3 linked regions of the Homo sapiens genome follow. The protein of the gene in region 3 interacts with the protein of the main gene of each other region in a pairwise test. Each region holds a gene or a part of one and is shown on either strand. Other genes may lie near its edges. The genes, in order: NID2, NBPF19 and GNE.

Region 1 (3,653 bases), on a different chromosome or scaffold from region 3:
TTCTCTAAATTTAGAACCAGGATTCTCTCCTATCTCACATTTATTATGGCAGATCAATGCCAGGAGCTTTGAAAGCTTAGCTTTTTGAAATGGGGTTTTTTCTCCTTCCTCTAGTACTTTTCTTTCCCTAGTTGATTTTTCTTTATTCTGACTAATGTATAACTCTGAAGTTATTGAGTCCACATTAGTTGATGATGTCGACTATCTTATGGATAGACATGAGGCAGAACAGCCTTTGTTTATATTTGGCAGTAGTTGTGGCTTCCTAGTATTGAGAAGCTCTAAAAACATTTCTTGCTTTTTGTTTTTGGAAAAGTCAAGCTTTGCTGATGAACAATCAACAACTGGAACAATAACAAATAAACTAGGCACCTGTTACTTTGTGAATTGAATGAATGAAAAAAGCAAAGCAAGATGTTGTTTTTTCTGGGTTAGAGAACTAAAAGAACTGCTGATTGTATTTTATTTTCTCTTGAAAAGTGTGTTACATCTATATTTCTTTATCCTATTAGCAAAACCTCAAAACCTTACTTTGAAATTAAACATTGAAAGGAAAAATTAACATTAGAAAAGAGCTAGAACAACTGTGGGAGTAGACTTAGAACAAAGGGAAGAGCCCATTCCTTCCTTGCTGTTTCCTTCAGTGAAATGTGATGTTCTTCTCTGTGCCCGAGTTTGTCTGTCTAGCAGAATGGAAAGGTAATGATACTTACCAGTAAATAATATTTCTAAGAGTCACATTATTTGTGAAGTAAGTTGTGTTTTAAAAATACCTTCCCAGTTCCTTACTAAATTGTAAAAGTAGTGTGATTTAGTGAGAGAGAGACAGTTTCAGAAGCCTAAACATAACAGCTTTTTGAGAATCAAGCACTGTTCACAGATCTTTAGGAGGAGCGGTCGCTGAATGAAGGTAAAGGCAAAAATCTCATCTTGTTGAAAATATGAGGGTAAACAGAATGTTAAGGAGTGATCCTATAAGGACCTGGGTGTTGAATTGGCAGCTGATTCAGGCTCCTGGTCCCTCTCTGGTCTGTGTTGGCTCCTGCAGTGTTTATAACATTCACCAGCTGCCTCTGTGACACCTCCCAACCTCCACCCTGAGATCCTGGACACACACCCCGGCTCTTGGCCTCTACCACCTTCTCCAGTGACTCTCCTACCATTTCAACCATGGCTGTTTCCCAGTCCTACACCGTGAGACTCTCCTGGGCAAAGCCTGTCTTTTGCTCCTTCACATCCTCAGCATCAAGCATAACGTCTGGTGCTTAAGTAGACACTTGGCTGTTTGAATTAGTGTATGAATGAATAAATGAATGGTGTTTACAAACATATAAACAACTAACCAAGCATAATGAGGTGAATGCTCACTAGAGATGCCCATAAAGGTGTTACAGAGGTTCAGAGAACAGAAATTATTCTATAGGGAATCACAAACACCTCTGAGTGGCAGCATTTGAAGGTTAGGAGGCTTTCTAGGCACAGGGAACCACGAACAAAGTGTAGAAGCATCCAAGGACATGGTACAAATGGGGACTATTAAATAGTCTGACAAAGATGCAGTGGAACTGAGCCTGGGAGGGACGTATGCAGCCAGGTTACAACTCACCTTGAATGCCATGTTGAGGAGGGGTTAGGGTGTCCTAGGGTGTGGGCTCTAGAGCTGGCTGGCCCACCACCACATACTTGCCACCTGACCTGAGGAAGACCTGTTAGCCCCTGTGTCTTTTTCTCATCTGTGAAATGAGGATAACCCTGATGCTCGTATGAAAGGGTAGATGGAAGAGGAAAGAGAGTGATGCTGTGAGACAGTAAGGAGGCCTTTTGACCAACTAGTGCCTAACACAGTGCCTGCCCATAGTGGTCATTTAATAAATGGATGAATGAATGAATGAATGAATGATGCAAATGAGAGATGCTGAGTGCCTAGGGTTATAAACTAGGGCAGTGACTGCAGGATGGACAAGTTAATTTTGCTGATTGCTCTTAGCTCTGAAAGAGTTTACATGAGAGAAGTTTGAAACCTTACAAAGTATATATTTTTTAACCTATGTTTTACCAATGCGTATTTCAACTATTAATCTAAATTGACAAATGGTATTTGCAATAATAAATAATATTGCTTATGAAATTATATTGTTAACTTGAAGAGGAAATTTTAAAGAAGGTTATGTTTAAAAACAATTTGGAGGAATCCTGAAAAAGGGGAAGTTCTTTGCACGTTATGATGCTTTGCTTGCATTCTGTTTCTTTCTTCTTTTATTTGTTTTTTACAGGATGTTTCTCTCTCTCTCTCTCTCTTTTTTTTTTTTTTTCCTCACAGCTGAACACTTTCCAGGCAGTTTTGGCATCTGATGGGTCTGATAGCTACGCCCTCTTTCTTTATCCTGCCAACGGCCTGCAGTTCCTTGGAACCCGCCCCAAAGAGTCTTACAATGTCCAGCTTCAGCTTCCAGCTCGGGTGGGCTTCTGCCGAGGGGAGGCTGATGATCTGAAGTCAGAAGGACCATATTTCAGCTTGACTAGCACTGAACAGTCTGTGAAAAATCTCTATCAGTAAGTAACATTGAGCTGAAGCCCTTTCCTATTTGAATATAAGGACTTTTAGGAAGTACCTGAACACAAGTGACCATAAGACCATTACATAATATATTGGTGGCTTCTAAGTAAGGCATCAAGTCAAAACCAAGGAACTAGATTCAACCCTGGAAGGATCAAGTTCACCAAAACATAAAAGGTCCTTTATTTTTCCTGCTCTATTGGGTATAGATACTGGAAACAGAACAGTATGTGTGTGTATTTGTAGAGCCACTGAGGCTTGCTATGAAAAACATTGCTCTTGGAACCACATAAAAATATCCAGTCATAAACTGCCCAGTTTGAGGTTTTCCAGATTAATCATTTCACAGGAGGAAACATTGTGATTTAGTCTTTTGGACAGATACTGTTAAACATTAAATTGAGCAATGTAATTTGCAGGAAAAATAACTAAGATTTATAGGTTTCCAGAAGTCTGAGGATGTCTCTCTGGCTTCATTACCTAAAATGAATTGAACCCATTCCTTAGACTCATCAGTGTCTGCCCATAATGGGCATTTAATAAATAGATGGGTGAATGAATGAATGATCCAGAGGGCTTACTTAGCTAGTGCAATAATAAGCTCTTCTGCATTTTGCCAGTACAGATAGTGCCAGTAGGATATTTATTGACTTCAGGGTTTTTTGGGGGGTGTGTGAGGGGAGGTAGGGGTGCCCTCGCTTTTATTCGTTTCCTGAATATAGAAGCCAGATAGAATACATTGGTTACTTCCTGGCCTCCTTTAACTGCTTCTTGACTTCATTAAATCAATCCTGGGTAGGTATAGAAACACCTTACACTTTTAGCATGCCATCCACTCTGCTCGGCTACCAGAAAGAGACCACTATAGCCAGGTTTGCTTACTCAGAGCTGACATTTATTGAAAACTTACTACTTGCCAAGCATCATGCTAAACACTTTCCAGATGTTATCTTAATTAAAACTCACAAGAATTGTAGGTTAGTACTACTATTTTCCCAGTTTTACAGAGGAGCTTAGGGAAGTTAAGTAAATTGCCTATGATCTCAAAGTTAAGTGGCAAAGCCAAAATCCAAGCTCAAGTCTGGAGTGCTGAACT
Region 2 (3,653 bases), on a different chromosome or scaffold from region 3:
CCTTTTTCTTTTTAAACAGTTCCTTATGTTAGCCATGAAATCTAGCTGGGGCTGTGTGGTTTCTGATTCCCCCTGGCTTATTCTTTACTTTTTCCTACTTTTCCAGGCTCAGCAGGGAGCTGCTGGATGAGAAAGAGCCTGAAGTCTTGCAGGACTCACTGGATAGATGTTATTCGATTCCTTCAGGTTATCTTGAACTGCCTGACTTAGGCCAGCCCTACAGCAGTGCTGTTTACTCATTGGAGGAACAGTACCTTGGCTTGGCTCTTGACGTGGACAGTGAGTACCTTACTATGAAGGTGATAAGCCTCCACCTGGTCTTCCAGATAGGGGTGATATTCCTGTTCCAAGTGGCCCTTACTGACCCGAGAGATGTCATTGCCGCAGGCAGGACCTGTGGGCGCATATAGGTTGTAATGAAACTGTAGTCTCAGTTGGAAGCCTAGACATGAAATGGGTCAGTGAGCAAGGCTCTATTCCTAGTCTCCAGCCATGCCTGTGGCAACCTGAGCCCGCTCTCAGCACATTGGACCCAGGCAGATGCAAAAAATTCACAGAACTATGATTTGGACTCAAGGGTTTGTAGATTTCCTCCTTCATTCTAATTTCAGTGTCTAAAATTCTTGCATCCATGAACGAGCTGGGCATTTGATGAGACAGGGCTGAATACTGCAGTTTTCCTCCTAGAAATCATCTGGGGCATTTTCTTTGAACTGATGGGAACAATAAGGCATAACTGTTTGCACAAACTTGGGATAAGTGATTTTGGGATAACGATCTACCAGAATGGGGATATTTCACCCTTGGTTCTGAGATGCAAACCAAAGAATATCATGACCAGCTTTCAGGCCTCCTGAAGTATATCTCTCACATTGTCCTGTTCTCATGCTGAGGAGCCTGAGATCCCTGTGTGGGGATTAGACAGTGGACTGTTATGGGTGTAGGTGAATTGGCTTATTTTGTCTGTCCCTGTCTGAATGTATTGCAGGAATTAAAAAGGACCAAGAAGAGGAAGAAGACCAAGACCCACCATGCCCCAGGTAACTGAGCAATTGTGAACAGCTACTTCTGTGTTGACATCTGGAGACTCCTGGTTCAGGGAAAACAGAGCGGGCTGACATTATCGATTACATCTTTTCAAGCAAGCCTGAATTATTCCTACTAACATTGCTGTTGGTTTTCATTGCAGTAGATATTTAGGTTTCCATTTCTTCCTCCCCTTATCATTTACTAACCTACTGTAGGTGGACCAGACTTCAAAAACTGTATTCTCATGGCGACTGCATGGAAACTTGAGCACATTTTATGGAAAATTATTGAGCACAGTCTTTTCATGATCACTGTATGCTGTGTGTCCTGAGGGCACTAACTCAGAGTGTCCTGTTACTCCCTCATCAGTGTGTCACCTGGACAATTCACTGAGCTCGTTCTCTCTCTCTCTCTCTGTGTGTGTGTGTGTGTGTGTGTGCGTGTGTGTGTGTGTGTGTGTGTGTCCATCTGTCTTTCTCTTTCATTCTTTTCCATTTGGCCCTGTTCTGTCCCAACATGAAGGCAATAATTTGTTACCTCATTAATGGATCTATCCTTTTACTTTCTTAACCACTTCCCTATGCTACCCATGAAACCTAGTTGGGGCTCTGTTGTGTGTGATTTCCCCTGGCTTATTCTTTACTTTTTCCTCCTTTTCCAGGCTCAGCAGGGAGCTGGTGGAGGTAGTAGAGCCTGAAGTCTTGCAGGACTCACTGGATAGATGTTATTCAACTCCTTCCAGTTGTCTTGAACAGCCTGACTCCTGCCAGCCCTATGGAAGTTCCTTTTATGCATTGGAGGAAAAACATGTTGGCTTTTCTCTTGACGTGGGAGGTGAGTACCTTTCTATGAAGGTGATAAGCATCCACTGAGTCTTCCATATAAAGATCATATTCCTGCTCCAAGTGGCCATTACTGAGCTGAGAGATGTCGTTGCCGCAGTGAGGACCTATAGGCACATGTAGGTTGAATGAAACTCTAGTTCTACCTGGAAGCCCAGACAAGGGATGGGTCAGTGAGCAAGACTCTCTTCCTAGTCTCAGGCCATACCTGTGGCGCCCTGATCCTATTCTCATGACATTGGACCTGGGCAGATGTGACAAATTCAGAGAACTATGATTTTGACTCAAGGGTTTGTAGATTTCCTTTTTCACTCTAATTTCAGTGTCTAAAGTCCTCACAACCATGAACAATCTGAGTATTTGATGAGACAGGGCTAAATATTGCAGTTTTTCTCCTAGAAATCATTTGAGGGTATTTGCTTTAAATTGATTGGAAAAATATGGCATAACTGTTTGCACAAACTTGGGACAAATGATATTGGGATAACGATCTACTAGAATAGGGACATTTTACCCACAGTTTCTGGGAGAAAAACCGAGGAATTTCTATCATGACCAGCCTTCAGGCCTCCTGAAATATATCTCTCACAGTGTCCTATTCTTATGCTGAGGAGCCTGAGGTCCCTGTGTGAGGATTAGACAGTGGATTGTTATGTGTGTAGGGGAATCAGCTTAATGTGTCTGTCCATGTCTGAATTTATTGCAGAAATTGAAAAGAAGGGGAAGGGGAAGAAAAGAAGGGGAAGAAGATCAAAGAAGGAAAGAAGAAGGGGAAGAAAAGAAGGGGAAGAAGATCAAAACCCACCATGCCCCAGGTGACTTTCAGCAATTGTGGATGCTTAATTCTGTGTTAACACCTGGAGGCAACAGATTCAGGGAAACCAGAGTGTGTTTGATGTCATGTTTTCAACGAAGGCTGAATTACTCCTACTGTCATTGCTGTTGGTTTTCATTGCAGTAGATGTTTAGGTTTCCATTTCTTCCTCCCCTTATCATTTCCTAACGTACCATAGGTTGACCATACTTCAAAAGCTGTACTCTCATGGCCACTGCATCGAATTTTGAGCATATTTTATGGAAAACTATTGAGCTCACTCTTTTCATGATCACAGTTTGCTGTGTGTCATGAGGGCACTAACTCAGAGTGTCCTTTTACTCCCTTACCAGTATGTCACCTGGCCAATTCACTAGGTCACTTTCTCTCTGTCTCTGTCTCTGTCTCTCTCTCTGTCTCTGTCTCTCTCTCTCTCTCTCTCTGTCTTTCTCTTTCATTGTTTTCTACCTGGCCCTGTTCTATCCCAACATAAAGGCAATAATTTGTTACCTCATTAATGGATCTGTCCTTTTTCTTTTCAAACTCTTCCTTAACGTTAGCCATGAAATCTAGCTGGGGCTGTGCGGTTTCTGATTCCCCCTGGCTTATTCTTTACTTTTTCCCACTTTTCCAGGCTCAGCAGGGAGCTGCTGGATGAGAAAGGGCCTGAAGTCTTGCAGGACTCACTGGATAGATGTTATTCAACTCCTTCAGGTTGTCTTGAACTGACTGACTCATGCCAGCCCTACAGAAGTGCCTTTTACATATTGGAGCAACAGTGTGTTGGCTTGGCTGTTGACATGGATGGTGAGTACCTTTCTATGAAGGTGATAAGGATCCACTGAGTCTTCTGGTTAGGGTCATATTCCTACTGCAAGTGGCCCTTACTGAGCTGAGAGATGTCATTGCCACAGGGAGGACCTATAGGCACATGTAGGTTGAATGAAACTCTAGTTCCACTTGGCAGC
Region 3 (3,653 bases):
CCTATCTCTACGAAAAATACAAAAAAAAAAAAAATTAGCCAGTTGTGGTGGCGCATGCCCGTAGTCCTAGCTACTCGGGAGGCTGAGGCAGGAGAATCACTTGAACCCGGGAGGCGGAGGTTGCAATGAGCTGAGATCACACCACTGCACTCCAGCCTGGGCAACAAGAGTGAGACTCCGTCTCAAAAAAAAAAAAAGCAAAGGTTGAATAATCTGAGAGAACAAGGCGTATTACATACATCTTGATGTATGTAATAAAAAGTCATTTAGTGCACCCTTGTGGCATGAATATATTAATGCAGTCTCCAAAGAGGATCACAAATACAATACTGTATCTGAAAGAACCTTGCGTTAAAATAAAATTGTCCTTTTCAGACTATTCTTTAAAAACAAGGTGGGAATTCGCTACTAGGAAATACTTAAAGAGTAGAGAAGAAACTTAATGGATAGCTCAGGGATCCACAGATTTTTTTTTTTTTTTTTTTTTTTGAGACGGAGTTTTGCTCTTGTTGCCCAGGCTGGAGTGCAGTGGCGTGATCTCGGCTCACTGCAACTTCCACCTCCCGGGTTCAAGTGATTCTCCTGCCTTAGCCTTCCGAGTAGCTGGGATTACAGGCATGCGCCACCATGCCCGGCTAATTTTGTATTTTTAGTAGAGACGGGGTTTCTCCATGTTGGTCAGGCTGGTCTCAAACTCCCAACCTCAGGTGATCCACCTGCCTCCGCCTCCCAAAGTGCTGGGATTACAGGTGTGAGCCACTGCGTCCGTCCAGATTTTTTTTTAATATAAAATGAATTCTGGCTATTTAGGAGCATCCTCTCAGTAGAACAGAAATTTTAGCTAGAGCCTGAGATGAAAGTTTGAGTGGGTTCTTTTACTGCTCTGAGAAAGCTTTGACAGGAAGACTAGTGGAAGAGAGGCTCTCAGGGAAATGGTAGTAGGTTTTTTATCTGCCTACCACAGTTACCAAGGGTGGAAGAATAGTGTTTATCTGATGAGACCGTTAAATAGGAAATTTGACTAGTACTTAATGAAAATGCATGTTTAAGGTACATTCTAACACAAGAAATTGGTTGCTTCTTGGGAGAAGAATTGGATGACTGGGAGACAAAAGTGAGAGACTTTTCACCATGAAATGTTTTCTTAAAGAAAAAAGGTTTGGCCAGGCACGGTGGCTCACACCTGTAATCCCAGCACTTTGGGAGGACGAGGCGGGCGGATCACGAGGTCAAGAGATTGAGACCATCCTGGCCAACATGGTGAAACCCTGTCTCTACTAAAAATACAAAAATTAGCTGGGCGTGATGGCACACGCCTGTAGTCCCAGCTACTCGGGAGGCTGAGGCAGGAGAATCGCTTGAACCTGGGAGGTGGAGGTTGCAGTGAGTCAAGATCGCACCACTGCACCCCAGCCTGGGCGACAGAGCGAGACTCTGTCTCAAAAAAATAAAAAAAAGGGTAAAAAACATTTTCCCCTAAGTGTATATAAAAAGTGCTGACCACTGTTAAAAGTTTAGTCTCTTTCTTCCTAATAAAAAAATTCTCTGGCCGGGTGCAGTCGCTCACGCGTGTAATCCCAGCACTTTGGTAGGTCAAGGTGGGTGGATCACCTGAGGTCAGGAGTTCAAGACCAGCCTGGCCAACATGGCAAAACCCCATCTGTACTAAAAATAGAAAAATTAGCTGGGTGTGGTGGTACATGCCTGTAATCCCAGCTACGCAGGAGGCTGAGGCAGGAGAATCGCTTGAACCCGGGAGGCAGAAGTTGCAGTGAGCCTAGATCGCGCTACTGCACTCCAGCCTGGGCAACAGAGCAAGACTTCATCTCAAAAAAAAAAAAAAAAAAAAAAAAAAGAATCTTAATCAGGCTGTTTACACTTATGGTCTATGCTTTTTATGTTTGTAAGTTATACTTCAATTTATTTATTTTAATGTTTCTCACTTCAGAGTTGGTGTTAGATTGCTTTTCTTGCATGTTACGGCTCTGTGTTTAAGAACATGTTCTTATATCTTTATTTCTCCCCGGCTTTAGAAATACATATCGAATGATTGAACAAGATGACTTTGACATTAACACCAGGCTACACACAATTGTGAGGGGAGAAGATGAGGCAGCCATGGTGGAGTCAGTAGGCCTGGCCCTAGTGAAGCTGCCAGATGTCCTTAATCGCCTGAAGCCTGATATCATGATTGTTCATGGAGACAGGTTTGATGCCCTGGCTCTGGCCACATCTGCTGCCTTGATGAACATCCGAATCCTTCACATTGAAGGTGGGGAAGTCAGTGGGACCATTGATGACTCTATCAGACATGCCATAACAAAACTGGCTCATTATCATGTGTGCTGCACCCGCAGTGCAGAGCAGCACCTGATATCCATGTGTGAGGACCATGATCGCATCCTTTTGGCAGGCTGCCCTTCCTATGACAAACTTCTCTCAGCCAAGAACAAAGACTACATGAGCATCATTCGCATGTGGCTAGGTACGTATCTCAGACTTTAGTCAGTCTAATGGCTGTTTTTGTCAGAAAATGTTCCGTCTATTTCAATCCTTTTGGAAACTATTATGGATAGAATACTCTGTTAGCAATGAGAAGGCCAAGGTTTTAGTTCATAGACCTTGCCCTGTGGTATGACTTTACCTCTCTGAGGTTTACCTTTTCTGTAAAATAGGCTTAGTGGATTGAGTTTTAAAAATCTCTGCTATATTTATAGAATGGAATGCTTTTAATCCATTAAATATATTAGTTATAAGAACGATCCTAATATGTCAAAAGGGGGAGCTATAAAATTATAAGTGTAATATGCCATTTCATTTTATTTTATTTATTTTATTTTTTGAGATGGAGTCTTGCTCTGTTGCCTAGGCTGGAGTGCAGTGGTGTGATCTTGGCTCACTGCATCCTCTGCCTCCCAGGTTCAAGTGATGCTCCTGCCTCAGCCTCCCAAGTATGTGGGATTGCAAGCGTGGACCACCATGACCGGCTAATTTTTCTATTTTTAATTTCACCACGTTGGCCAGGCTGGTCTCGAACTCCTGACCTCAAGTGATCCGCCCACCTTGGGCTCCCAAAGTGCTGGGATTACAGGTGTGAGCCACTGCACCCAGCTGTAATCTGCCATTTTACTAAAAACTGTAATAATGGAATGGTTAGGAAGTATGTACACCAAGTCATTTATTATATTTATTTCTGGTGTGGGATTATGGGTGTTTTTATGTTTGATTTTCTGAATTTTTTTTTTGTTTTTTGAGACAGAGTCTTGCTCTGTCATCCAGGTTGGAGTGCAGTGGCACAATCTCGGCTCACTGCAACCTCCACCTCCCAGGTTCAAGCGATTCTCCTGCCTCAACCTCCCGAGTGGCTGGGATTACTATGCCTGGCTAATTTCATATTTTTAGTAAAGACAGGGTTTTTCCATGTTGGCCAGGCTGGTCTCGAACTCCTGACCTCAGGTGATCCGCCCACCTCAGCCTCCCAAAGTGCTGGGATTACAAGCGTGAGCCACCGTGCCTGGCCTGATTTTCTGAAATTTTTTACTACATTGGCAAAATGGTCATTTTTTTTTTTTTTTTGAGATGGAGTCTTACTCTGTTGCCTAGCCTGTAGTGCAGTGGCTCAGTCTCGGCTCACTGCAACCTCCACTTCCCGG

The links.
Region 1: the proteins of GNE (region 3) and NID2 interact in a two-hybrid assay, tested with the Homo sapiens proteins (one large-scale study listed by BioGRID).
Region 2: the proteins of GNE (region 3) and NBPF19 interact in a two-hybrid assay, tested with the Homo sapiens proteins (one large-scale study listed by BioGRID).

Annotation. Positions count from the first base shown.
Region 1 is NC_000014.9:52,059,024-52,062,676, reverse strand, and holds part of NID2 (nidogen-2 precursor), read left to right. Parts: intron 1-2,320; coding exon 2,321-2,553; intron 2,554-3,653.
Region 2 is NC_000001.11:149,498,967-149,502,619, forward strand, and holds part of NBPF19 (NBPF family member NBPF19), read left to right. Parts: intron 1-106; coding exon 107-279; intron 280-988; coding exon 989-1,040; intron 1,041-1,690; coding exon 1,691-1,863; intron 1,864-2,577; coding exon 2,578-2,686; intron 2,687-3,319; coding exon 3,320-3,492; intron 3,493-3,653.
Region 3 is NC_000009.12:36,244,863-36,248,515, reverse strand, and holds part of GNE (bifunctional UDP-N-acetylglucosamine 2-epimerase/N-acetylmannosamine kinase), read left to right. Parts: intron 1-2,033; coding exon 2,034-2,485; intron 2,486-3,653. UniProt on the Homo sapiens protein: Bifunctional enzyme that possesses both UDP-N-acetylglucosamine 2-epimerase and N-acetylmannosamine kinase activities, and serves as the initiator of the biosynthetic pathway leading to the production of N-acetylneuraminic acid (NeuAc), a critical precursor in the synthesis of sialic acids.